7 linked regions of the Homo sapiens genome follow. The protein of the gene in region 4 interacts with the protein of the main gene of each other region in a biochemical or structural test. Each region holds a gene or a part of one and is shown on either strand. Other genes may lie near its edges. The genes, in order: KCNJ18, GHRHR, TANC2, LDB3, CNTNAP4, CD46 and PRKACA.

What was found.
Region 1: the proteins of LDB3 (region 4) and KCNJ18 interact in a test that uses a peptide from one of them, tested with the Homo sapiens proteins (one large-scale study listed by IntAct).
Region 2: the proteins of LDB3 (region 4) and GHRHR interact in a test that uses a peptide from one of them, tested with the Homo sapiens proteins (one large-scale study listed by IntAct).
Region 3: the proteins of LDB3 (region 4) and TANC2 interact in a test that uses a peptide from one of them, tested with the Homo sapiens proteins (one large-scale study listed by IntAct).
Region 5: the proteins of LDB3 (region 4) and CNTNAP4 interact in a test that uses a peptide from one of them, tested with the Homo sapiens proteins (one large-scale study listed by IntAct).
Region 6: the proteins of LDB3 (region 4) and CD46 interact in a test that uses a peptide from one of them, tested with the Homo sapiens proteins (one large-scale study listed by IntAct).
Region 7: the proteins of LDB3 (region 4) and PRKACA interact in a test that uses a peptide from one of them, tested with the Homo sapiens proteins (one large-scale study listed by IntAct).

Annotation. Positions count from the first base shown.
Region 1 is NC_000017.11:21,702,523-21,705,112, reverse strand, and holds the end of KCNJ18 (inward rectifier potassium channel 18), read right to left. Parts: intron 2,383-2,590; coding exon of another isoform or gene 2,327-2,382; coding exon 1,025-2,326; 3' UTR 501-1,024; downstream 1-500. UniProt on the Homo sapiens protein: Inward rectifier potassium channels are characterized by a greater tendency to allow potassium to flow into the cell rather than out of it.
Region 2 is NC_000007.14:30,976,991-30,980,028, reverse strand, and holds the end of GHRHR (growth hormone-releasing hormone receptor precursor), read right to left. Parts: intron 2,749-3,038; coding exon 2,707-2,748; intron 911-2,706; coding exon 785-910; 3' UTR 501-784; downstream 1-500.
Region 3 is NC_000017.11:63,420,735-63,424,234, reverse strand, and holds part of TANC2 (protein TANC2), read right to left. Parts: coding exon 2,280-3,500; 3' UTR 1-2,279. UniProt on the Homo sapiens protein: Scaffolding protein in the dendritic spines which acts as immobile postsynaptic posts able to recruit KIF1A-driven dense core vesicles to dendritic spines.
Region 4 is NC_000010.11:86,671,511-86,675,010, reverse strand, and holds part of LDB3 (LIM domain-binding protein 3), read right to left. Parts: intron 1-3,500. UniProt on the Homo sapiens protein: May function as an adapter in striated muscle to couple protein kinase C-mediated signaling via its LIM domains to the cytoskeleton.
Region 5 is NC_000016.10:76,535,901-76,539,400, reverse strand, and holds part of CNTNAP4 (contactin-associated protein-like 4 isoform 1 precursor), read right to left. Parts: intron 1,286-3,500; coding exon 1,061-1,285; intron 1-1,060. UniProt on the Homo sapiens protein: Presynaptic protein involved in both dopaminergic synaptic transmission and GABAergic system, thereby participating in the structural maturation of inhibitory interneuron synapses.
Region 6 is NC_000001.11:207,758,554-207,762,053, reverse strand, and holds part of CD46 (membrane cofactor protein isoform 3 precursor), read right to left. Parts: intron 2,416-3,500; coding exon 2,330-2,415; intron 806-2,329; coding exon 608-805; intron 1-607. UniProt on the Homo sapiens protein: Acts as a cofactor for complement factor I, a serine protease which protects autologous cells against complement-mediated injury by cleaving C3b and C4b deposited on host tissue.
Region 7 is NC_000019.10:14,093,763-14,097,262, reverse strand, and holds part of PRKACA (cAMP-dependent protein kinase catalytic subunit alpha), read left to right. Parts: intron 1-3,470; coding exon 3,471-3,500.

The sequences.
Region 1 (2,590 bases), on a different chromosome or scaffold from region 4:
AACGCACGACTCACACTGTGGGCCCAGTGGGGACGGGGCTGCCAGCTTCCTCCTAGCCTGGGATCCTGACTTCCCTTCCCAAGGAGGCATCCTGGCCTATGGCTCCTAACCACCCCTCACTGTGGAATTGGGCGGAGGCCTGGACAGAAATGGAGAAAGAAGCAAAACAGGAAAATCGAGGGTGGGAGGAGGAACCCTCGATGGCAGGTCCCATGCCTGGCCCTGAGACACATCTCTAAGGTACAAAGGCAAACTCTAAAAGCTCAAACCACTTTCTTCCCAGACCCACCCAGCACCCCAAAGACAGCAGAAAGCTTTTATTACAATCATTAACATGGTCTTGATTTTTCTATCACAAACAGAGCCTAGCTGGCTCGTGAGCTCGACAAAGTGCGGCCCCAGAGCACCCTGCTTGCCCAGGGACTGCAGTGCCCACATACACGGGGAGAGGCCGGTCCCACCTCGGGGAACCCTCTGGAGCCTCCAGCCAGCTGCTGCATCCTGGCAGACCCATGGAATTCTAATTGTTCTTTTTGCCCCCTATGAATTAAAATTTTTTTCTCCAATTGCATGGTTTTTTTTTTTTTTGTAAACAGTCTCACCCAAGCTAAGGTCGAGAAAGCTGAAACCCGGTGTTTCTCCCCAAGTTAAAAACCAGCAAGGAGCACCGCAGCTAGCCAGCCTTGGACAGCAGAGGCTGGGCCCACCATCGAGCTGGGCTGCTTCCCCGCAGGCTGCAGCTCCATCTTCAGGCAGAAGCCCTGGCCCCCGTGGCCTGGCCCCCCAGGAGGCCACTTCTTTGCCCTGAGCCTGTGATAGCCTCTGAGGCCGGGGGCTGCCGCTCTGGCTGCCCCCTCTCCGGCCAACCTTCTGAGGCCTTTGCAAAGAAACATAAAACGACTAAAACGCTACTGAGTCTGCAACCCAGGGCACTGGGCCCGTTCTGCTCAAACCCAGGGCCCCTGAGCGACCGCGGGGCCTCTCCCCGGCCAGGGGTGGATGCTGCATGTCGGCCAAGGTTGGCTCAGATCTCTGACCCCCGTCTGTAGGGCCGCTGCTCCAGGACCCCGCCGCCAGCCTGGAGTCTGTCAAAGTCATGCCTGGCCTGGGGGCTGAGGCCATCCCGGCTTCGGCCGTCCTGGTCTCCGTCCGCCTCATCCTCCTCGTCACGGCTCAGGAAGGCCAGCTCGTTCTCATAGCAGAAGGAGTTGGCACTGGGCAGCAGGAACTTGTTCTCTACCAGATCCTTCGCACTGCAGCGGGGCGTAGAGGGCACCTCATAGGTCTTGTGGAAGTGCGAGTAGTCAATCTTGTACTGGTTCTTCTCCTCGAAGAGCACGGGCTCAAAGCGGTGACCCCACAGGATCTCATTGGCCAGGTAGGAGCTGCGGGCCTGGGTGGTCATGGCTGTGGCCTCCACCATGCCTTCCAGGATGACCACGATCTCAAAGTCGTCCGTCTCCAGGTCCTGCCGGCTGATGCCGAAGAGCGGGCTGGCCTCGTCAATTTCATGCAAGATGGTGATGGGCGACACCAGAAAGATGCGGTCCAGGCCCTTGTCGAAGCCCACATCGATGTCGATCTGGTCCAGCGGGATGTACTCGCCCTCCTCGGTGACCCGCGGCTTGATGAGCTGCGCGCGCACATGGGCCTCCACAATGTGGCTCTTGCGCAGGTTGCCCACACGCCACATGAGGCAGAGCTTGCCGTCACGCAGGGCCACCACGGCGTTGTGGCTGAACAGCAGCGTCTGTGCCCGCTTCTTGGGCCTTGCCATCTTGGCCATGATGGCACCAATCATGAAGGAGTCGATGATGCAGCCCACGATGGACTGGGCCACCACCATGAAGACGGCCACCAGGCACTCCTCCGTCACACAGCGCAGCCCGTAGCCGATGGTGGTCTGCGTCTCGATGGAGAAGAGGAAGGCCGCCATGAAGCCGTGCACCTGCATCACACAGGGTGTGCGGCCGTGGCCCTCAGCCGGCTCCAGGTCACCGTGTGCCACCGCGATGACCCAGAAGATGACGCCGAACAGCAGCCAGGAGGCAAGGAAGGCCAGCGAGAAGATGAGCAGCATGTAGCGCCAGCGGATGTCCACACAGGTGGTGAACATGTCAGCCAGGTAGCGCTGTGACTTCTCGTCCATGTTGGCGAACGCAATGTTGCACTGGCCATTCTTCTTGACGAAGCGGTTGCGGCACCTGCGCCGCGTGTGCACCTTGCCGTTGCCGAAGCCGTTGGCGCCCGACATGGTGACCAGGTGCAGCCCGTCCTCCTCCAATGACACGATGCTGTAGGGGTTGGCCCGGCTGGCCGCGGTCATCCCGGGGGTTGGGGGACCCTGGCTCACCCCCAGGCTAGCTCCAGGCAGGGCGGCTCCTGGAACAGAGAGGACAGCATGTCTGGCTGGGCTGGTGGCTCCAGGCTCCTCTACCCCCATCCCAGGGCCCCCAGACGTGACTGGAGGACGCTTCCACCCTGATTGACCCACAATCATGCTCTGGTCTTGCCTAAGCCAGCTCCCCACTCCGCCTTCCCAGTGCGAGTGGCCACCCCCTTCGGGCCCCCAGCAGCTCCAGCCAAAAAC
Region 2 (3,038 bases), on a different chromosome or scaffold from region 4:
CATTTTTAGTAGAGACAGCGTTTCGCTATGTTGGCCAGGCTGGTCTCGAACTCCTGACCTCAGGTGATCTGCCTTCCTCAGCCTCCCAAAGTGCTGGGATTACAGGCATGAGCCACCGCGTCCACCCCGGGAGCATCTCTTAAAAGCACAGTGCTGAGGGGGAAACGTTAGAAGCAGGATGAGGCATATGACCAACAGCATTTATGTAAATTAAAGTACAGACACACAAAACACCACGTATTTTGCAAGACACACAGAAACACAAGTATTCACATTAAGCATGCTCTCTTTGCCTGTGAGAGGAGGCGAATGGGAGTGGTGAAGGCAAAAGAGAGTACATTTTAAGAATAAATAAAACAAGAGGCCCCTTGCACAGATAAATAATCATAATGTAGCATGAACTGAGGAATGATGAACGCAACTCAGCACCAGACGTCTAAATAAAGAACGCAGGTGCGCTCCCCTTTAAAGGCCCATTTACTCACTCAAACATGCGTCTATTCATTTACAGGTTTATTGGCTCCTCTGAGCCTTGGGCTAGAGCCCCAGGCCCCAGTAAGAGGAATGGATGAGAGCAGACACAGAGGGACCACAGAAGTCAGAGGTAGACATACAGGGACCTCAAAAGAGAGTCAGATGCAGAGACAGGGAGGAAGGGCTGCACCTGCCCCGGGCTGGGTAACAGCTGGGGTGGGGATGTGGCCCCCTTGCTCCTCCAGAGCATGGCAGACCCGTGGTAGCTGCCCAAATTCAAGTGTGGACTCCAGTGGCGTGATGAGGCAGCCTAGCACATAGATGTCAGCACCTTTGCCGCCGAGCGGGAAGGCGTGGTCCACTTAGCACGGGTCCTCCAGGCTGGCAGAAGCTCAGGGTCATGGCCATGCCACTTCCGTGAGATCTCAGTCCTCACCTCCAGGGACAAGGAAGAGGACGTTAGGAAGGTCCCCCTGTGGCTTTGCTACTCAACCCCAATGAGACTAAGGTGCAGGGAGAGGCCGTGTAAGAGAAACAGAGACATGGGGCAGGAAAAGTCATGCTTGGCAACAGGTACTGCTAAGTACTACCTCTGGAGGATACTACTTTTTCCTTCCTGTGAGTATTTCTCACCATTCTTTTAGCTCCTTTCTCTGCCTTTTAGCCCTGCCTTTGTCTGAGCCCAGTTAAAGACATTTATAGGTGCTTTCTTGAGTTCCTGGCCAAATAACCACCCTGTTCTCTCTTAATCACTTAGACCACTCCTTGCTCTGGGATTCAATTTTGTGAGCTCAACTCTGGCCACTGGAAATCTGTCCAGAGGACATGACCTGAAGGGAGAGAGGATTCAGAACTCTGTCTGAGGGGTTGCAGTTGAGGAAACTGAAAGTAAGTAAAAGAAAAGTAGCCTGGGGCAAGATGGAACGGTGGGATTGGGGGGTGGGGGTGCTGTCTGTATCTTCACATCTCCAAGGGGCTTTCAGGGGCATAGGGTGCTGAGAGAATGTGCCTCATGCAGTAGAGCCGAACTGGGGTTGTGGTGAAAGATAAAAGGAATCAGATATCTGTTCAACATAAAGATGATCTTTCCACAGCTGCCTGACAACAGAAAGAGCTATTGGGATGTAGTAAGCTCACTGTCACCAGAGGTATGTAACCACCTGGTCTCCGGCACTGCTTCCCAAGACAGCTCCCTTCACACCTCTCTGTGGAAACACTTTTTCCACACCCCACCAGCCTCAGCCTGGGATGCTTCTTGCCCCTCCCAGGACCCCCAGGGCCCATGGTCTGCTACAGCCAGACACCAGATAAGGCTGCATGGGACTTAGAGAGGTCAGGTGAGGAATAAAGAGAGGGAGAGTGGAAGGAGCAGTAAGGGACAGAGGTGGCAGATGAGATGGGAGCAAAACTCCACAGCGAAGGGGACAGGGCATCTGCAGCCAACTCTCACAGAATGCAGAGCCCATGGCAAATCCATGGCCAGCAGAGGGAGCGCATGGCCCTGCAGGTGCACAAAGGTGGAACTTGGGAGTCCGGGGCATTGAGATCAATTCTCCCCCGCCTCTCTCCCCAGAGCAGGACTGTCCTAAGGGGGAAATTCAGTGTCTCCTGGGTGGAATTCACTTTGCGTCAGTCTCTGTCGTGTCCCCACGTTTCCACATGTGCAGCAGCACCATCTGTTCTGTCTTTTCATGTCTATCTCCCCTTCTGTCCACTCTCTTTGTGTGTCTGTTTTCTTTAGGTGCTCTCTCTGTTTCTTGGGCTCCAGATCTTCCTCTTTGTCTCTGCATCTGATTATTTTCCTAGTTCCCTGTATGTTTACCTCTGACTTTCTTGGCTCCTCTATCTGTTCTCTCTGATTGTCTCTCCCTCAGCTGGCGTACCCCCTCCCCAACTCTCCTTTTTGTTCAATTTTAGGAACACAGAATTGGGGGATTCCTTCTGACTCCCTACCCTAATCCCCCTCCTTATCCCTGAAAGGCCTCCTCCACCTCCTGAAGAGTAGCTAGTAGAACTTGGCCCAGCTCAGAGGAAGGATGGATAAGAGATGTTTACAGGAAACATTCCGGTTCAGCTTGATCCAGAAGCTCAGGACAGACTACCACAAAAGCTCACAAGAGTGAAGGTGTGGCCTGAGCTGGGGTTTACAGGGCCTGAGTGGGAGAGAGGAGGAGGGGCCTTAGGTCTGGTGGGAGGGGGACTCCATGAGGGATAGCCTCAAAAATCACACACCTCTTGGTTGAGGAAGCAGTAGAGGATGGCAACAATGAAGCCCTGTGGGTCCAAAGAAGAAAGACCCCATCAGAACCCTTTGGCCTGGCCTGAAGGTGTCCACCGTCTTTCTGCTACCTTTTCCCTACTCATCCCCAGGCTATGGCTTGGGCCAGGTTTGATTGAAAGGGGAATTTAAATGCATTCATTACTTACTATGTGCCAGGCATATTGTCATAGAATTGTCATAGCAAGCCTGCCAGGGCTGTACTGTTGGCCCCATTTCTCTGACTTTATTTCTGCATCCCTTGTGAATGAGCACAACACTTGGCACATAATAGGGGATCAGTAAG
Region 3 (3,500 bases), on a different chromosome or scaffold from region 4:
AAAACTGAGAGACCCTGGGGAGAAGCGGCATCAGCGGCATATTTGTAAAGCTACAGGACCTGCTCATTCGCCTGGACAGGTGAGTGCGGGTGGTGTGTGGCGTTCCAAATGAGCAGGAGCACTTTCCTGACAGACACTGAGAAATTCTTCAAAATGCAGTGGCTCCTCAGCGAGAGGCGGTTTTAAGGAGTAAGATGTAAAGATGCCAGCAGTGCTGAGACCTGGCCAAAAAGCAATCTGAGAGGCCACTGGGCTCCTGGCTAGAGGTTGCCGCTAGAGCTACACATTTCATCTTCCTGATGTGAGAGAGAGGGGTATAGAGATGGAGAGAGGACGCTGATGCCTACCCTGGTCTAGCTGAGAAGGCGTCGCTGATGCCCACCCTGGTCTAGCTGAGAAAGCAGTCCTTAGGTATCAGGGAGTGTGGAAAGAGGCTGGGGCTTGAGTTAGTCTTGCTATTTGCTTTCAGCACAGAGACAAGTCCTGGCCTGTTTTAGGTTTGGGGGTGGAGAGGTCCGTCTATTTCGCAGAATCTAAATTAGTAAAGAAATGCTTCTGATCTCAGGTTCATGCTCCCTGTGTCTTAATGATCCCTTCAAAGGGCACTTACTTACTTACTTACTTACCAGACACATGGGACTGGTCGCAGCCAGATTTTTATTCAGGAAACTGCCCTTCCTGCAGCCCTTCCCTAACAGAGCAGAATGATTCCTAACAACAGAGAACGAATGCTCCTTTGTTTCGTTTCAGTTGCTTAGTTGAGTTGTTTAGTTGTAAGAGCTGATGTACAGCCAGTGCCAGGCCTGTGCCGAGGCTTTGGTTCCAATGTTCTTGCTATCCACTCAATAGTGGCCTCGCTCACTCAAAGGTCAGCCTACCAAATGACCACGAGACCTAGAAGATGTGTCTTCTAGACAAGCTTCAAGATCAGAAGCTTGCTGTCTATCTCATGCCCCCACCCAGGGCTGCAAAACAGGGCTGAAAGGGGTCTTTCTTCACCCTGAAACAGTTTTTGCTGCGTCTGACTTTAAAATATCACACTCTCATAAACACTCCTAGAAAAAGAAAAGAAACAGTTCCTGTAATAATAGATAATCAAACTATAGATCTCAAAATGGAAGTAGACAACAACGGGCATGACCCTGGGTGGAAATATTGGGACTCAGTCTCATGGTCCCAAGAGATTCCAATCTGCTTCTGAAAGAAACAATTTCTGTATGACACCATCTGGGTTTACAGGAAGAGGGCCACTAGAACAAAATCTGGCTGTAGGTGAAGATCCAACTAACGGGATTGTCACACCAGCCAGCCTTCGGTTAGAGTTTCCTTTTAGTGGAGTATGACACTCAGTGATGTATCAGGATCTAAAAAGTAGATGTCTCCAGAACAGACTTCCTATAGCCTTTCACTGAGAATCCAGAACAATCTTTTTTGTTTTTCTATGTATTCATTCCCTCCCCCACCCTGGAAAAGCAGCAGCTTTTAGTGGTTAATTGTCGGCTAAAAATCTAGAGAATAACTCTCAGTGAATTCTCTTAATAGCCACAATTCTCATCTAATTTCCTTGGCTGACTGCAATATTTAAAGGGCTGGCTGTTTTTGACATGTTCCTACAATGCCTCTTGGAAAATCAATGTAGTGACATTTTACATAATTATATTGGGGTTTTCTTCCAATTTAGCACTTAATTCTTCTCTCTCTGATCCTTTTACCCCCTAGGAAGACCAGCAATAATCCTAATGCACACTGCAGACCTGGTGGCTGCAGGGCGCTGGCGGTCTGGGGAGGGGCCACAGCATGAGAATGCGCTGCGGCTGGCTGTGTGGGTGACACTGGCTAAGGATGCAAAGGCAAAGGGGCATCGCACTCTTTCTAAAGTTTCTAGAAGAAAACGAACAAGAACACCTTATTTTTTAAAAAAGGAAAAAGACAATTACACAACAAGAACATCAGTGAAAGCGATTGTCTCCTGGAAAAAGCTGACCAGTGTGTCTGATCTCCCTGGGTTAAAGCACACAGCACGAAAATCTCCTCGTTGGCATCTGAAGAGAGGGAGAGAGCATGTGGCTGGGCACAGACAAGAGAAACTGAAGTCCTGGCTCCCGGGAGGCCGCTTCCCAGTCGGCTGCATGCAAAGGATTTCAGCATGTGGGCTGCCACCTCTGAACACCACACAGAAACTACATGAGAAATTAAGCCAGAGAACTACCTCGAATGTGGAAACCAAGCCTGAAAATGTGCAGTGAAAACATATGGGTCTCACTCCAACAAAACGTCTTTTAAACATTAGACTCCACGAACGGTCTCTTTGGTTTGATAGGGGATGTCTGCCCTTGCCGAGAGTCTCGGGACAGCTGCCTGTACAGGTTGTCCTGGTATGCCTGAGCCACAGGTAGAGTCCGAGCTACCTTCACGTCGGGATAGGAGGAGGCCTGGCTGACTCGCTCCAAGAGGTCTCCACGAGACCCGTTAGCCAGCATCCCATGGGGGCTGTAATAATCGTCCTCCAGCAAATGGCCATTCTGTGCATTGTTGGTTTTGTTATAAAAGGCAATGTTGCTGATGGATGATGGTGGACTGAAGGACTCAGGCTGAGGCAGGTTGCCTGGAGACGTGGGACTGAGGACGGTGTCCACAGATGACACTGCCCAGGTCCGATTCTGCTGGTGGAGGTGGGGGTACTGCTGAGTCCGTGCTGTTTTATCTATGATCCCCATGAATGGTGTGGTCCTGGATCGGGTGGGCTCACTGGGGTAACCTCCTTGAGTTGGAGACACTGGCGACAGCTCGTCACATGACCTCTCATATGCAGGTTTCAGTGGGATCTCCATTTGCTGGATGGAAGAAGATGGCCGGAAGGTCGGAGTTAGGTTGGAGGTGGAGGAGATACTATTGCTAGATGGAGAGAAGCGAAGGCCTACACTTTGGGAATGCAGCAACGGCCTGGGAGTTGGCGGGTGCGGTTTGATTTCGTTAGGGTTGACACTGATAGGTCTTCTGATTAAATGCGACACATCAGGGGAACCTAGTTGGCTGGAGGAGCGCTCCAGATCTAGTTTTGAGTGACAGACTGGGTAATAGGATGCTGACTGGCTGCGTCCGATCTGTGGTGTCTGGCTGTATCTCACGCCACCTCGGTATGCTGAGGAAGGTCGCTGTGGAAGATCCTCTTTGGTCAATCCTCCATGCTGACAGATGGCGCCTGCACTCAGGCTGGCTTGGACATGCTGCACCGGCCTTCCATCCCCTACGATTCCCCCAATTGACCCTTGATAAACCAACCGGCTCTGGCTGACTCCTATGTCTCCTTGTGAAGACTGGTATTTACTGGCCATTGAATGGGCTACTTGGCCATAGGCTCCTGTGGGGATGACGGTGCTTGAATGGACGGCTGGGCTGGGCTGGTTACTTCTCACAATCTGGGCCTTGGCAGGCTGTAGCCTGAGCCCTTGCTGGGGAACTGCCACAGGGAGCTGAGGCATCTGGTAGGGCCGCTGGGC
Region 4 (3,500 bases):
CCCTCAGGGTGGGGGCTGGGGGTGCTGATATCCTCCTCTAGGGAGGTGCTTCAGGCAGGATGGAGGCAGGGACCCTATGGATGATCAGGAGCCATCGGATGCCTTCACCCCACCTCAGGAGCAGCCTGCCTGGGTGGGTTGGAGGGGGGCACCCTCAGACCCTTGCCCAGAGTCCAGGGCTCATGGAGAGTGCAGTCCAGGCACGATGCTTCCACGTCTGTCTTGTCTGACTCCATCCTCCTCTTTCCTTTCTGTGTTTCAGAAAGGGCCCAAAGCACCCAACTCCTTGGAGCTGTGGTTTTTTCTTTTTAATCTTTCTAGCCGCCTTTGAGCATTTAAATGCCTCCCTTGAATGAGTGTTTCATTCCCACTTCACATTTCAGTCTTCTCCCGCCAATGGGCCCCTCTAAACCCTGGAAACCCAACCCTGGGTGCAGCCTAGAATGGCCTCAGGGTGGGGCACCGAGCTCCTGTCTCCAAAGCCCCCAAGAAAGGCTGCAGGTGTTTGGAGGCCAAGATCAGCTCCCTGCCCCCAGGAGCCCTTCCGCCTTGCTGGGCCAAGGTCTTAGGGCACTTCCAAGGGCAGCCCAGGGAGAGCTGGTGCCAGAGCCACTTGTGAGTGCTGGGGGCTGGGGGCGGGGAGGCAGCAAAGGAGGAGCACAGGTGCCAGTATGGGCCGGGCCCCTGACTTCGGTGCCAGCCTCCAAGCCCTCCAGTGTCAAGAGAATGACAATGCCTTTCTCGGGATTGTTGTGAGGATTATGTCGTTAAACAGGGGATTATGTAAGGAGGGTGCAGAGCTGAGAGAGTTTCAGGAAAACTCCAAATCCAGGAGGCACAGTGCTGACCCCATCTGCTACCCCCAGAAGGTGTGAGGCTGGCTGGCTACATCCCCGGGCTCCACAGGAAACAAGATCCACAGCTGGCAGAGGGTGGAGCTTGAGGAGCCAGCCCTGACTGACCAGTTCTGAGCCAGCCTGCTGTCCCTAGAGGGGCCTGGGTGTTGGGGGGAGGGGAGGAAACTTCTGTCCAAGGCCCAGGGGAAAGAAGGCACCAGTGAGGCTTCAGACGCACCCATGCCATTGGCTCCTATTTTCCCAGTTCCCTGGCAGCAGAGAGAGCAGCTGGGCTCTGCAGACGTTTCTGGCCATCATTCACTCCCGGTGTTCAAACCAGGCAGGCCCCTGCCTTCCTCCTCTTCTAGATGTGCCAGTGTAGATGTGGTGGGTGGAGGCTGGGGCAGGTGGCAGATAAGTAGGAAGGGTACAAGTTTCAGCAGCTCCCCCTCCCCACACTCCCAGGCTGCCTGCCTGGGTTGGGGCAGGTGGGACAAAGTGCATTTTCATTGTATGATTAAATTACTGTCTTGTCCTGCTCTGCTGCCTTCCCATCTGGCCTCCCCTGGGGCTTTGCTCATGCTCACCCTCTCACTGGAACCTTCTGTCTCCCCATGGTCCCACTCCCCAACTCCACCCTGGCCGATAAATAAGCCGGAGTCCCCTCAATGCTCAAAAAGCCTCTCCCTGCCTGCCTGGGTGGCTCCAACTGGCTCCTGTCATGTCTCCTTTCTGCACCTCCAGACTCCTCCAAGAAGTGACCCACACATCCTGCCCCCACTGCCGCTGCCTCCCACCTGCTCACACACAGCCGTCTGCCTTTGGCCCCATTATTCCACGCATATCAATGACCTTCTGTGTCCAAAGCCACGGGTCACTGCCCCCTCTGTAGCTGACCACACCTCCCCTGGCTTTCCTCAAGTGTCTCTTGAGTCTCTCCTGCCTCTCTTCCTCCTGTCCAGGTCCACAGTTCCATTTGGGTCTTGGGTGTGGCCAATAAAATGCCCTCATGGGCACTGGCTCTCAAGGGCCCCCAGCAAGGCCCATTCTTGTGTCCAAGGATGGTTCCTGGGCAGAGGTGGAGCCTGGTCCCAAAGGGGTGCCAAAGCTGTGTTTGGGGGTGGGAGGGCTCAGTGTAGAGGAGGGTCTTTGCAGTCAGGGGCAGCCTCTGGATGAGAGGGGACCATGCAGAAAGGGAAGGAGACTCAGGGAATTGGGGAGCTAGCCCCCAGCAGAGCCTGGCCCAGCCTTTCTCAAACAGCCCTGCAGTCCTGACACTGGCTACCCCACAATATCTGTAGGCCCGGAGCCCTGGGGCTGCTTATGCAGCTGCCCTTGCACGGTGTCCTGGCCCAGGGGCCTCCAAGGGTCCAATTCATTCCCCAGGACCCAGCCAGCCTCATGTCCTCTCCTTTTGGATCCCTCACAGAGTTAGATGCAGTTCTGAGCAGCCCGGAGGACCTGGCCTGGGGGACCTCTAAGAATGCATTCCCCAGCTGTGAGCCTCTGAGCCTCTGGCCGTTTATCTTCCCCTGTTGATAGATGTTGCAGGGAGGCCCCTGCCAGCCCCACTGAAGCCCTCGGAGGCTTGCCTGACCTTCAGTGCGGCTATAAACAGCACGGCCTGTCAGCACTGCTAAGAGCTGCCCAAGAAACAGCACTGCGTGCTCCAGCGGCCCCGAAATTCCAGGAATTGCCGGCACAGCTACCCCAGAATAGTCTCAGCCTGTCCCCCTTCCTCTCCCCAGAGACCCTCTGTCCTCAGCATGTTCCCACCACAGCTGGGAGAGTCTGATAAATACTGGAACCGAAACCCACAGAGAAGAGGCCTCTGAGCTGGTGCTCCAGGTGAGCCTGCAGGCGGGGTGGCTGAGACCCTAGGAAGAGAGGGTTTCCAGTAGACAGGCAGGCCCCTCCTGGGCCCAGGCTCAGCCCCCGACTCCACCAGTCTCACAACCAGTCCCAGTAGACAACAGGTGGAAAGTTTTCACAAGTGCCTGTTAGAAAGAGCTCTCACAGGTGTGGAAGGCATCATTTTATTTGTTTATTTATTTATTTATTTTTAAGATGGAGTCTCACTCTGCCCCCAGAATGGAGTGCAGTGGTGCGATCTCAGCTCACTGCAACCTCTGCCTCCTGGGTTCAAGCTGTTCTCCTGCCTCAGCCTCTTGAGTAGCTGGGATCACAAGCATGTACCACCACACCTGGCTAATTTTTGTATTTTTAGTGGAGACAGGGTTTCACCATGTTGGCCAGGCTGGTCTCAAACTCCTGACCTCAAGTGGTCTGCCCCCTCGGCCTCCCAAAGTGCTGGGATTACAGGCATGAGGCACCGCGCCCAGCCTGCTATCCCCATTTTAAGGGTGAGAAAAACTGAGGCCGAGCAGGTAAACAGACTTCTGAGGTGACACAGCTGAGAGCAGCAGAGCCTAACAAAGCATACTCCTCTTCCCCAAGGCGGAGGCATGAGAGGCATGAAGAGGTGAGACCCCAGACCACAGCCCCAGCCTCTGGCCAGCTGCCAGGGCAGAGGCCTTTGGAGCTGCTCCCTCTCTGGGCTGCTCCCCCTTCTCCACTTCCTGGAGAACTGGCTGGGGTGGGGTGAAAGGGCAGCTCATGTTGCAGGCCCAGCCACACCTGTCCAGGATAAATAAAGGCATTTCC
Region 5 (3,500 bases), on a different chromosome or scaffold from region 4:
ACCTATTGCTTAATATTGCAATAATATTCTGTTCCTATATTTAAAAAATATATCTCACACTCTGGAAATACAACAATTAATGAAATTATTAAACACAAATGTAGTTTTACTAAAGAGAAGAAATATGTCCAAGTAGTCATGGTCATAGACTTTGAAATGAAATAATGGTAAGATGAATGATTTTAAGCCAAATTTACCATCACAATTAGTACTACTCATTTAATTGCCTGCAGAGATGTCAGTTAATTTATTTCACAGGATATCTTTCAATTTGACAAAGAAAATGCCCTAATATATAAATAAGCTTCAAGCTCAAAATGCACAGTAAGAATAAATACACTTATCGAACAATCTTATTTTTATTTTGGTGTTCAGTACAGTACCCTTGGGATATATTTGAATCAGTTGAAATGATATAGTCACATGTTTGTATGTTTGCTTTTCTTATCCAGAGAAGTTATTTCCAAAATTTTTACCTTTAATCTAGATGTGGGAAAGAGAAAAATAGCAGTAAATGGTTTTCTGTAGGAAACACATTTCCTAATCTACATTCCCTTAACACTGCATGGATATAACATTTTTTTCCCATGATGATTTTTTTAACTAAAAGTACAACTAAAAGGTCATCTTGTGGACATATTCTTACTCAAAATGCTGGTTTATTAACACTCCCTTAATGTTTCTTTACTTTGATTTGCAGGAAATAGTTACATACAACAAGACACCTTATTTCAAAATGAACTATGAAACAAATATTGATAGCCATATGGAATAGTCAAGGAGCTTCTAACAATAATATAATAAATGTTTTATATAAATAAAATTATACATTGAATATGTAAAATTATCAAAATCATAAAGAGATAAGGGCATCTTAATCATTTTAAATAATCCTTTTAGATTATACTTATAGGATAGTACTAAAAATATGACTACAAAAAACAGGCACACTCCATTTTTCTGTTTGTAGCTTGAGAAGCCAGAACACGAGAATGATCCATATTATTACAGAGCTAGTGTTCTAATTTAATTTTCTCTCTCTCATCTAAAAAGAACTCACCATTTTTGGCAATGATCACAGAAAGGTATTCTTTGTAAAAGGAGCTCACAAAAAGCAGCAAGCTTGGTGTTCGTGTTGTTCGGAAACTAAATTTGATCATTTCTCTGCTCAGCTTCATATCACCATGAAATGAAGCAGCGTGGGAGCTGGAGTTTTTACTTAAAAGATAATTTTCTTGAAAATTGTATATCACGGATGAGCCAGATCCAAAATATGCAGAAATCTCTGAAATAATATATATATATATTTTTGTTAAAAATTTTAAGTACAAGGATTTTGTTTTAGTTACAATAATTATATTTTAGTTTCTTTAATGAATTGCATAGATAGAAGAACCAACCCCAAAATAGAATCAAATAATAAAGTAAGTTAATAGAGCTTTCAAAATGATCTTTGAAATGGCTTTCTGTTAAAATGACATATAATTAATGCACTAGTATAATTTTACAGTTGAAAGTTAAATGCTTTCTTATCTGAGTTCAAACACAAACCAGGCTTGTCTTCTATCTCCTTGATCATCTACTTTTTTATTTAAATTTTAACTCCCATCTGTTATATTGCAGATAGTACAATCTTAAATGAAGTGTATCTTAAAGGAAGTCTAGGGCCTCCTATCTACAAAATAGTTAGGAAGGAAGGATGTTTGAGAGACTCTCTTCTTTCCCAGGATCAAGAGGCAGAAATTTTCCTTTATGTCTAAACATTTTCTCATAGTTATTGTGTACTATAAAAAGAAAGCTAAGTCTAGTATTAACATGATACAGGGAAACAGGATCAACAAACAGAACTAACCAACCTCTTTTAAATCATTTTACAAAAGTGTAGTATTTTCCTGGTATGAGATTAATATCCCAAATTCTCTCTGTCTTCCTCTCTCTCTCTCTCACACACACACACCAAATACATATGTATGAAAATGAAGAAGATGGCAGAAGAAATAACTAGTTTTAAATCCCTGAATCTGCTTCTCTCCATTACTGAAAAAGGACTGGTTATTGAATACAAGTTGTAGATGATACTTACTGGATCATACAGTAATGTTTAGGCTCCCTTGACATCTTAGAGTTTTTAATTGTTTCATTATTTTATTATCTATAACACGCATTTTATATTCAATATAATATGTGCATACAGAGTAACATTTACGGTTGCACTTAGCAAGATGAACTGGAAATTATTTATATCCAGAAAACAAAGACATGTTATTTTAATGAAGTGGTCTTAATGATCACTTTAAACATGAAAAGTGTCCTAGAATGGTACCAGCAGTATATGATTATGATCACAAGTTGATTTGTAAATTATAGATTATTCCTGAGAAAAGCAGATGACTTGAAAAGAGCATTTGGCCATCTTTTTATTAACTCATCCCATGCTTTCTTTGTAAGTCAGGAGTTGTTTTAATCTGGAGCCAAGTTTTGTTAGCCTCCTTCAGGAAAAGGTTCAATAGCCAAGAGACACTTTAAATAAAGTAAATGAATTTAAATTGGATGTCAGTCTTCTATGAGGAACTATGAAAGAGTAATAAATGTTTGTATATTCATGGAAGTCTGTCCAGAACACTTAATCCTACAACTGTTCTTTTCTTCTTCCATGAGGCATATCAGATAATGAGAGAAGCTGAAAAGTATTCTACTATTTTATTTCACCAGCAGATATTCAACATATCATACAATAAAATGTATGATTAATGTATAAATGTGTCTATTTTTGTAATGCATCGATATTTAATGGTATATTGTTTATATTTCTGGAAAAACTATGTCTGAAAAACTCAAATAAAAAACAATGCATCTTAAATATCCTTGCATTGTTGAATATCTTCAACAAATACAATAGTAACAGGGCCGGGCATGGGGACTCACGTCTGTAATCCCAGCACTTTGGGAGGCTCAGGTGGGTGGATTACTTGAGGTCGGGAACTTGAGACCAGCCTGGGCAACATGGTGAAACACTATCTCTACTAAAAATACAACAATTAGCTGGGCATAGTGGTGGGCTCCTGTAAGCCCAGCTACTCGGGAGGCGGAGGCAGGAGAATCGCTTGAACCTGGGAGGTGGAGGTTGCAGTGAGCCGAGATTGCGCCACTGCACTCCAGCCTGGGTGACAGAGTGACAGAGTAAGACTCAGTCTCAAATAAAAAAAAAAGTAATGCTTTAAATGATTTTAAAATAAAGAATTGCCCCATGGGGCAGGTTGCTGACAGCCATATTATTTAAGAGCATCAACACTAGGTAGAAAAAAGCAGATTGAGCAACTAACACTTTATAATACATAAAGGTGACTATTAATGGATTTACCATCAACAAACACTAGTTTTTCATAAATGAGTCAAATATTTAAGTAATGAAATATGATGCGCTCCATCTTTGAATATATGATGCTGTCTCATCACCAGGATCTTGTACTCATTCTTTACATTCAACAGATACTTTGCCA
Region 6 (3,500 bases), on a different chromosome or scaffold from region 4:
AAGTTTGTTAAAAGTTGTCTTATTGTCTAGAATATGGTCTACTTTGGAGAATGTTTCATGTGTACTTGGGGAGTATATACTTTTAAATCACTGTTATTCAGTGATTTCTTTCTTTAAATGGGCAAGTCCCCTACATGGTCTTCATACTTTTGGTCACTCCAGAGTGCCTTAAACATTTGGTCTTTAAAAAAAAAATTTTTTTTATCCAGAGTTTATCATTTTTATTTGTGAGACGATTAGTCTGTCACAGTTTACCACTACCATAGCCAGAACTCTTAGATTTCTTGTAATACAAGATGAAACTTTCTTTAAGCCAGTGTGTATTTTTTTTTTTTGGTTCTTTCAAACAAAAACTTCTAACTCATGCAGGTACACAGTAGTTCACACTGTATAAAATGAAATGCCAAGAACATGTAGGGGTGAGAAATAGGGAACTCTAGCTAGAACTATTTTTTGACTTGAATTGACCTGAATTAAAATAAATTAGAAACCAATTATACAGGAGGAGGAAGCACATACACCTGCTTTGTTTATCTGTAGATGAAACTATTTACAAAATGTTTCCATAGTATTTACAAATGAAGAAGGAAATAAATTGAAACACTACCTTTACACTCTGGAGCAGCACGACTCCACACTGAATTGTCACCACAATAAATCGTGCTCTCTCCAATAAGTGAAAATGGATCTGGTCCAGGTGCAGGATCACAACTATAAGTTACTGCATCAAGATACTCAAATACTTCTACTTCACTAAAGGTGTGTTTTCCATTTTTTATTTTTGGAGGTGGTGTACACAAAACCTCTTAAAAATGAAGAAAAAGAGGAAAGGAAATGTAAAAGATTAAGACAGCATTAGTAAAATTTCTGTGTCTTCAATAAATTTGTCAATATAGGGTTTCTACAAGCTGTTTGTGAATTCAATATGGATTTAAAAGAAGGTTTCTATGAGCAAATATATCATCCCAAATTCAAACCATTAATGTAGTAACTAACTTTCAGAACAAATCTCATTTTCTTAAAGTGTAAATACCTATTGATATGGTTTGGATCTGTGTCCCCACCAAATCGCATGTCAAATTGTAGTCCACAATGTTGGAGGTGGGGCCTGGTGGGAGGGGTCTGAATCATGGGGGTGGATTTCTCATGAATGGTTTAGCACCGTCCCCTTGGTGCTGTTCTCGTGATACTGAGTGCTTGGGAGATCTGGTTATTTAAAAGTGCGCAACACCTCCCGTCCTCCCCACCTTGCTCCTCCTGCTCCTGCCATGTGAGACACCTTGCTCTCCTTCTGTCTTTCCCAATGGTTGTTAAGTTTCCCGAGGCCTACCCAAACCCCCAGCAGATGCCAGCACCATGCTTCCTGTACAGCTTGTAGAAACATGAGCCAATTAAACTTCTTTTCTTTATAAATTACCCAGTCTCAGGTATTTCTTTAGAGCAATACGAAAACGGCCTAATACGCCTGTATTTATTTGGAAGGCCATGCTAAGTTCTGTTCTAGTCATCACAAGAAATGCTGACAATTAATGAGAAAATATGCTTAACTCGGTGCTAGTTAAGAAATCCTTTGCAATTTATAAATATATCCATTTTCTAAATTGGTGATTCACAATACCACCAAAATATTATTGTCTTTTTTCACTCTGATCCTAATAAGAATATAGTGATATTTTTCCAAAGGCTACATATTGTGTGATAACACAACAGGCCAAATACAATCTTGCTTTAAGCCAGATGTTGAAGAGATATGCAAAAAATGTGAACAATGCCACTATTCTCACTAATTTTATTTTGATTTGGAAAATTATTATTTTTCATAAAAATTATGTTACATATGTTAATTTGTATTGCATTTATTCTTACAAATTAATCAGGCCAGGTGGGGTGGCTCACATTTGTAATCCCAGCACTTTGGGAGGCCCACGGGGGCAGACTGCTTGAGCATGGGATTTCAAGACCAGCCTGGGCATCATGGCAAAACCCCGTCTCTTCAAAAATTACAAAAAGCCAGGCATAGTGGCACATGCCTGAAGCCCCAGCTACTGGAGAGGCTGAGGCTGCAATGAGCTGAGATTGTGCCACTGCACCCCAGCCTGGGAAATAGCCTGAGACCGTGTCTTAGGAAAAACAAACAAAACCAAAAAGAATCAATAATTATTTAAAAACCTCTCCGTTTGAATTCCAATATGATAAATACCAATAGATATAACCCACATAAAAGAAACCTCTTTGGGATCTTTGTTAATCTTAAAGTGTAAAGGGTGTAAAGGAGGCAAAAATCTTTGAGGACTACTGGTCTAAATTTAAAAAAAAAGAATTTACTTACTTTCACATATTGGGGGCTTACCGCTCCAAATTGCTACTGATCCTTTAAGTTCACAATATAGAATTTCTTCACCAATTAAGTAATAACTAAATGAGAAAAGAAAGGGTTACTGTTTTGTATAGCAATTAATAAGACACACATAATAATGAAGGAATTTTTTATATGGTTTCTTTTCTACACTACAGTAGTTTGAGGGGGTGGTTTCTTAAACAACATACTATATAACGAAAGTGCTAAATAAATCTGCAATTTAATCAAATAGAGTTTCCCCATTTGAATATATATTGGCCAAGAGCAAAGATGTCTAAATAAATCTGCTGTGCCTTTCCACCCAGCCTCTTTGCTGCCTCCTGCAATCACATTACACATTCATTTCTGTGCCTTTTCTCACACCACTTTGCACAGTAAGGACAAGGACTGTGTAGAGAGAACAGGCCCTAGAGCTGGAATGGATAGATTCAAGTCCCTGCTTCTCAACTTATCTAGTTTCTTGAGCTTGGGTAAGTCACTTAAAGTTCCTTCACTCAGCTTCCTAATTGATTAAAAGGGGATAACAGTACATGGGGTTGTTTAGGGGATTAGATAAGTTAGCATTTGGCACATAGATAGTGCTACATGAGTTTTAGCTTCTATTAATATTATTTAGAACAGAGTGTATTTCTAGGAATAGCTCACTGAGTATAAGAATACTTTCATTAAGTATACCCCTATACTCAATGAAATCTTCCCTGATTTAAATTCACAGGAATCTCTCCTCCTTCTGGACTCTTAGAGTAATTATCATGAATAATTCTACTTATTTGGTATTTCTCATTTAGTATTTTGCTTTTATTGCTCTCAGTATATATTATTTCTCAATAAGGTTAGAACTTCTTTTAGGAAGGTCACTGTCTTAAAGTTTTGGTATCCCTCGGTGTGCCTAGCAAGCAGTATGTGTCAACTGAATATTCCAATATTTCTACTTGACCAAATTTTAAAAACTGTCAGTTGCCTTACATAGTCACAGCTGATTTTTCCTCCAAGACTCACTTACTTTTTCTATATTATGGTGTGTTACTGCTATTGTTTGAATCTGGTTTGTCTCTACCAAAACTCATATTGAAATTTAATTGCCAGTGTAACAGCATTGAGAGGTGGTGGGGCCTTTAAGAAATGACTAGGTCATTAAGAG
Region 7 (3,500 bases), on a different chromosome or scaffold from region 4:
CTAGAAGTTCCTTAAGTCAGGCCAGGTGGTGAAGCTGGACGCGCCGGCCACACTGAGGCCAACACCTCAAGCCCCCTTGCTGTCCAGCCCCAACCCCGCGGTTCCAGAATCCCATGGGCTTCCAAAATCCCGAGCCTCACGGGAACATCTTGGCCACAGAACACAAACCGCCCTGCCAGACGACCCTCCTTTTCGCTCCTCATCCCAGTTAGTGTGAGTTTTCGCAAATTCCAAGGCAGAAAAACGAATGTATTTGGTTCCTGTTCCCAGGTGCTGTCCATAGCCTCACCCAGGATTGCCCTCACTTAGCATTTATAGCCCATGCTTCCTCTCCCAAACCCAGACTTGCCTAACTCTGAGGGTTCAGATGAGGGGTGGTGAAGCCATCTCAGCTCACATCTATGACAGGTGCAAAGTGCCCACCATCCACCAGGCCCCAGAATCCCCATCAGTCACACCCTGAGATAGTGGCACCCTCTGTAGGAGAGGTGAGGAAACAGGCTGGGAAAAGGGATGTGTCTTGGCCAAGATCACACTTTGGTGAGTAGGTAATCACCGTAGGCAATCATTGTAGGCACTGATGGCCGGAGAGAGGTTGGGGACCCCACCTCTGCCCTCAGCTCAACCACCTTGCTGGGAAGACCCGACCATCCCCCGACTTGGTCCAGCATCTCCTACACAGGAGCTTTTGGTTGGCCCGGAGTCATGACACTGTGGTGGGAGCACCCTCAGGCTCAGCCTGGGCCCCAGTCCCAGCTCTGCCACCGACTGGCTTTGAAACTTTGGGGCTGGGTACAATGGCTCACACCTGTAATGCCAGCACCTTGGGAAGTGGAGGCTTGAGGCCAGGAGTTCCAGACCAGCCTGGGCAACATAGCCAGACCCCATCTCTAAAAAAAAAAAAAAAAAAACAAACTGGCCGGGCGCGGTGGCTTACACCTGTAATCCCAGCACTGTGGGAAGCCAAGGCGGGCAGATCACCTGAGGTCGGGAGTTCGAGACCAGCCTGACTAACATGGTGAAACTCCGTCTCTACTAAAAACACACACAAAAAAAATTAGCTGGGTATAGTGGTGGGCGCCTGTAATCCCAGCTACTTGGGAGGCTGAGGCAGGAGAATCACTTGAACCCAGGAGGCGGAGGTTGCAGTGAGCCAAGATCACACCATTGTACTCCAGCCTGGGCAACAGGGCAGGACTCTGTCTCAAAAAAAAAAAAAAAAAAAAAAAACTAAAAATTAGCTGGGCGTGATGGTGCACCCCTGTGTTCCCAGCTCATCGGGAGGGTGAGGCAGGAGGATCGCTTGAGCCCAGAAGTGAGCTGTGAGCTGTGATTGCATCACTGCAGTCTAGCCTGGGTCACAGAGCCAGACCCTGTCTTTTAAAAAAATTCAGGCAAGTGGGGTGCCCCAGCTGGACACATAGCATCACTAAAAGAGAAAGATGAAGGCCAGGCGCGGTGGCTCACACCTATAATCCCAGCATTTTGGGAGGCCAAGGCAGGTGGATCACGAGGTCAGGAGTTCAAGACCAGCCTGGCTAACATGGTGAAACCCTGTCTCTACTAAAAATACAAAAATTAGCTGGGCGTGGTGGCGGGTGCCTGTAATCCCAGCTACTCGGGAGGCTGAGGCAGAGAACTGCTTGAACCCGGGAGACAGAGGTTGTAGTGAGCCGAGATTGCGCCACTGCACTTCAGCCTGGGTGACAGAGCAAGACTCTGTCTCAAAAAAAGGGAAAGATGAGGCATCTGCCACCGGACCAAAAGAAACTGCCAAGAAAATGGCCCAGAGTTGGCCGGGTGTGGTGGCTCACGCCTGTAATCCCAGCACTTTGGGAGGCCGAGGCGGGCGGATCACGAGGTCAGGAGTTTAAGACCAGCCTGACCAACATGGTGAAACCCCGTCTCTACTAAAAATACAAAAATTAGCCGGATATGGTGGCACACACCTGTAATCCCAGCTACTCAGGAGTCTGAGGCAGGAGAATCACTTGAAACCGGGAGGCAGAGGTTGCAGTGAGCTGAGATTGTGCCACTGCACTCCAGCCTGGGCAACAGAGCAAGACTCCATCTCAAAAAAAAAAAAGAAAAAAAGAAAAAAAAATGTCCCAGAGTGGGAAAAAAAAGAAAGAAAAAAACACAGAAGATCCCACAGGAGAAGATGCACATGACTCCCTTCTTTGTAGCATTTTCTAGTTCCCCCGCACCGTCAGTGGTATTATCTCCCTCGTGCAGCCCTGGCATATCTGCCCCACATCTGAGAGGCATGCGCAGGCCCAGAGAGGTTAAGGGCCATGGCCAAGGTCACACAGCGTGTAAGAGGCACAGCAGGAACAAGAAGTCGTTTCTTGCAACTATAACTCCAGTGATGACTTGCATACAAGGCGTGGGCTCAGAGGGTTTGGGGAAAACTTTCAAGAAGAGTTGAGCTGGGCTTTAAAGAACGGAAGAGCCTTAGCTATGCAGAAAGAGAGGAGAGAAAAAGTTTGTCATAAGCAAGAATATTTCAGAAGTCTCCAGACCCCAGCAGAGATGCCTTAAGCAGCAGCAGCAGCAGCTGAGAATGCAAGTTCTAGAGTCCAGTAGACCTGAGATGGAATTGCCCCATCACACACCTCAATGTGACCTAGGAAGAGCTGTTTAACCCAAGCCTCAGTTTCCCCTTCTCTGAAATGGAAATCATCATAGCACTTGCCTTAGAGCAATGGTTCTTAAAAGGGACCCCTTTCCAGCAGCACCATTGCTGGGGAATTTGTTAGAAATGCAGATTCTTGGGCCAGGCACGGTGGCTCACACCTGTAATCCCAACACTTTGGGAGGCCAAGGCAGGTGGATCACCTAAGGTCAAGAGTTCAAGACCAGCCTGACCAATATGGTGAAACCCCGTCTCTACTAAAAATACAAAAATTAGCCAGGTGTCTTGGCGTGAGCCTGTAATCCCAGCTACTCAGGAGGCTGAGACAGGAGAATTCCTTGAACCCAGGAGGCGGAGGTTGCAGTGAGCCCAGATCGCACCACTGCACTCCAGCCTGGGCTACAGAGTGAGGCTATTTTTTTTTTTTTTTTTTTTTTTTTTTCAAAAAAAGAAATGCAGATTCTTGCTGGGTGTGGTGGCTCACGCCTATAATCCTAGCACTTTGGGAGGCCAAAGCAGGAGGATCGCTTGAGCCTAGAAGTTCAAGACCAGCCTGGGCAACGTAGTGAGACCCTGTCTCTACAAAAACTTCTTAAAATAACTAACTCTTGAATTTTTAAAGTTTTTAAAGAAATGCAGATTCTCAGGCCACAGTATCAGACTTCCTAAATTGGAAACTGTAGGGTAGGCTCAAGGAGCTGTTTTACAAGATGCTGGCAGGCACTCTGCTTTGGAGGCCCACACCCAGTAGGACCGTTGGATGGAGAAAGAAGCATCATGGGCTTCCCAAGTTCCAGACCAGCTTCCCACCCTGTCCTTGTACCCCTTCCTCCAGGTGCGCTTCCCTTCCCACTTCAGCTCTGAC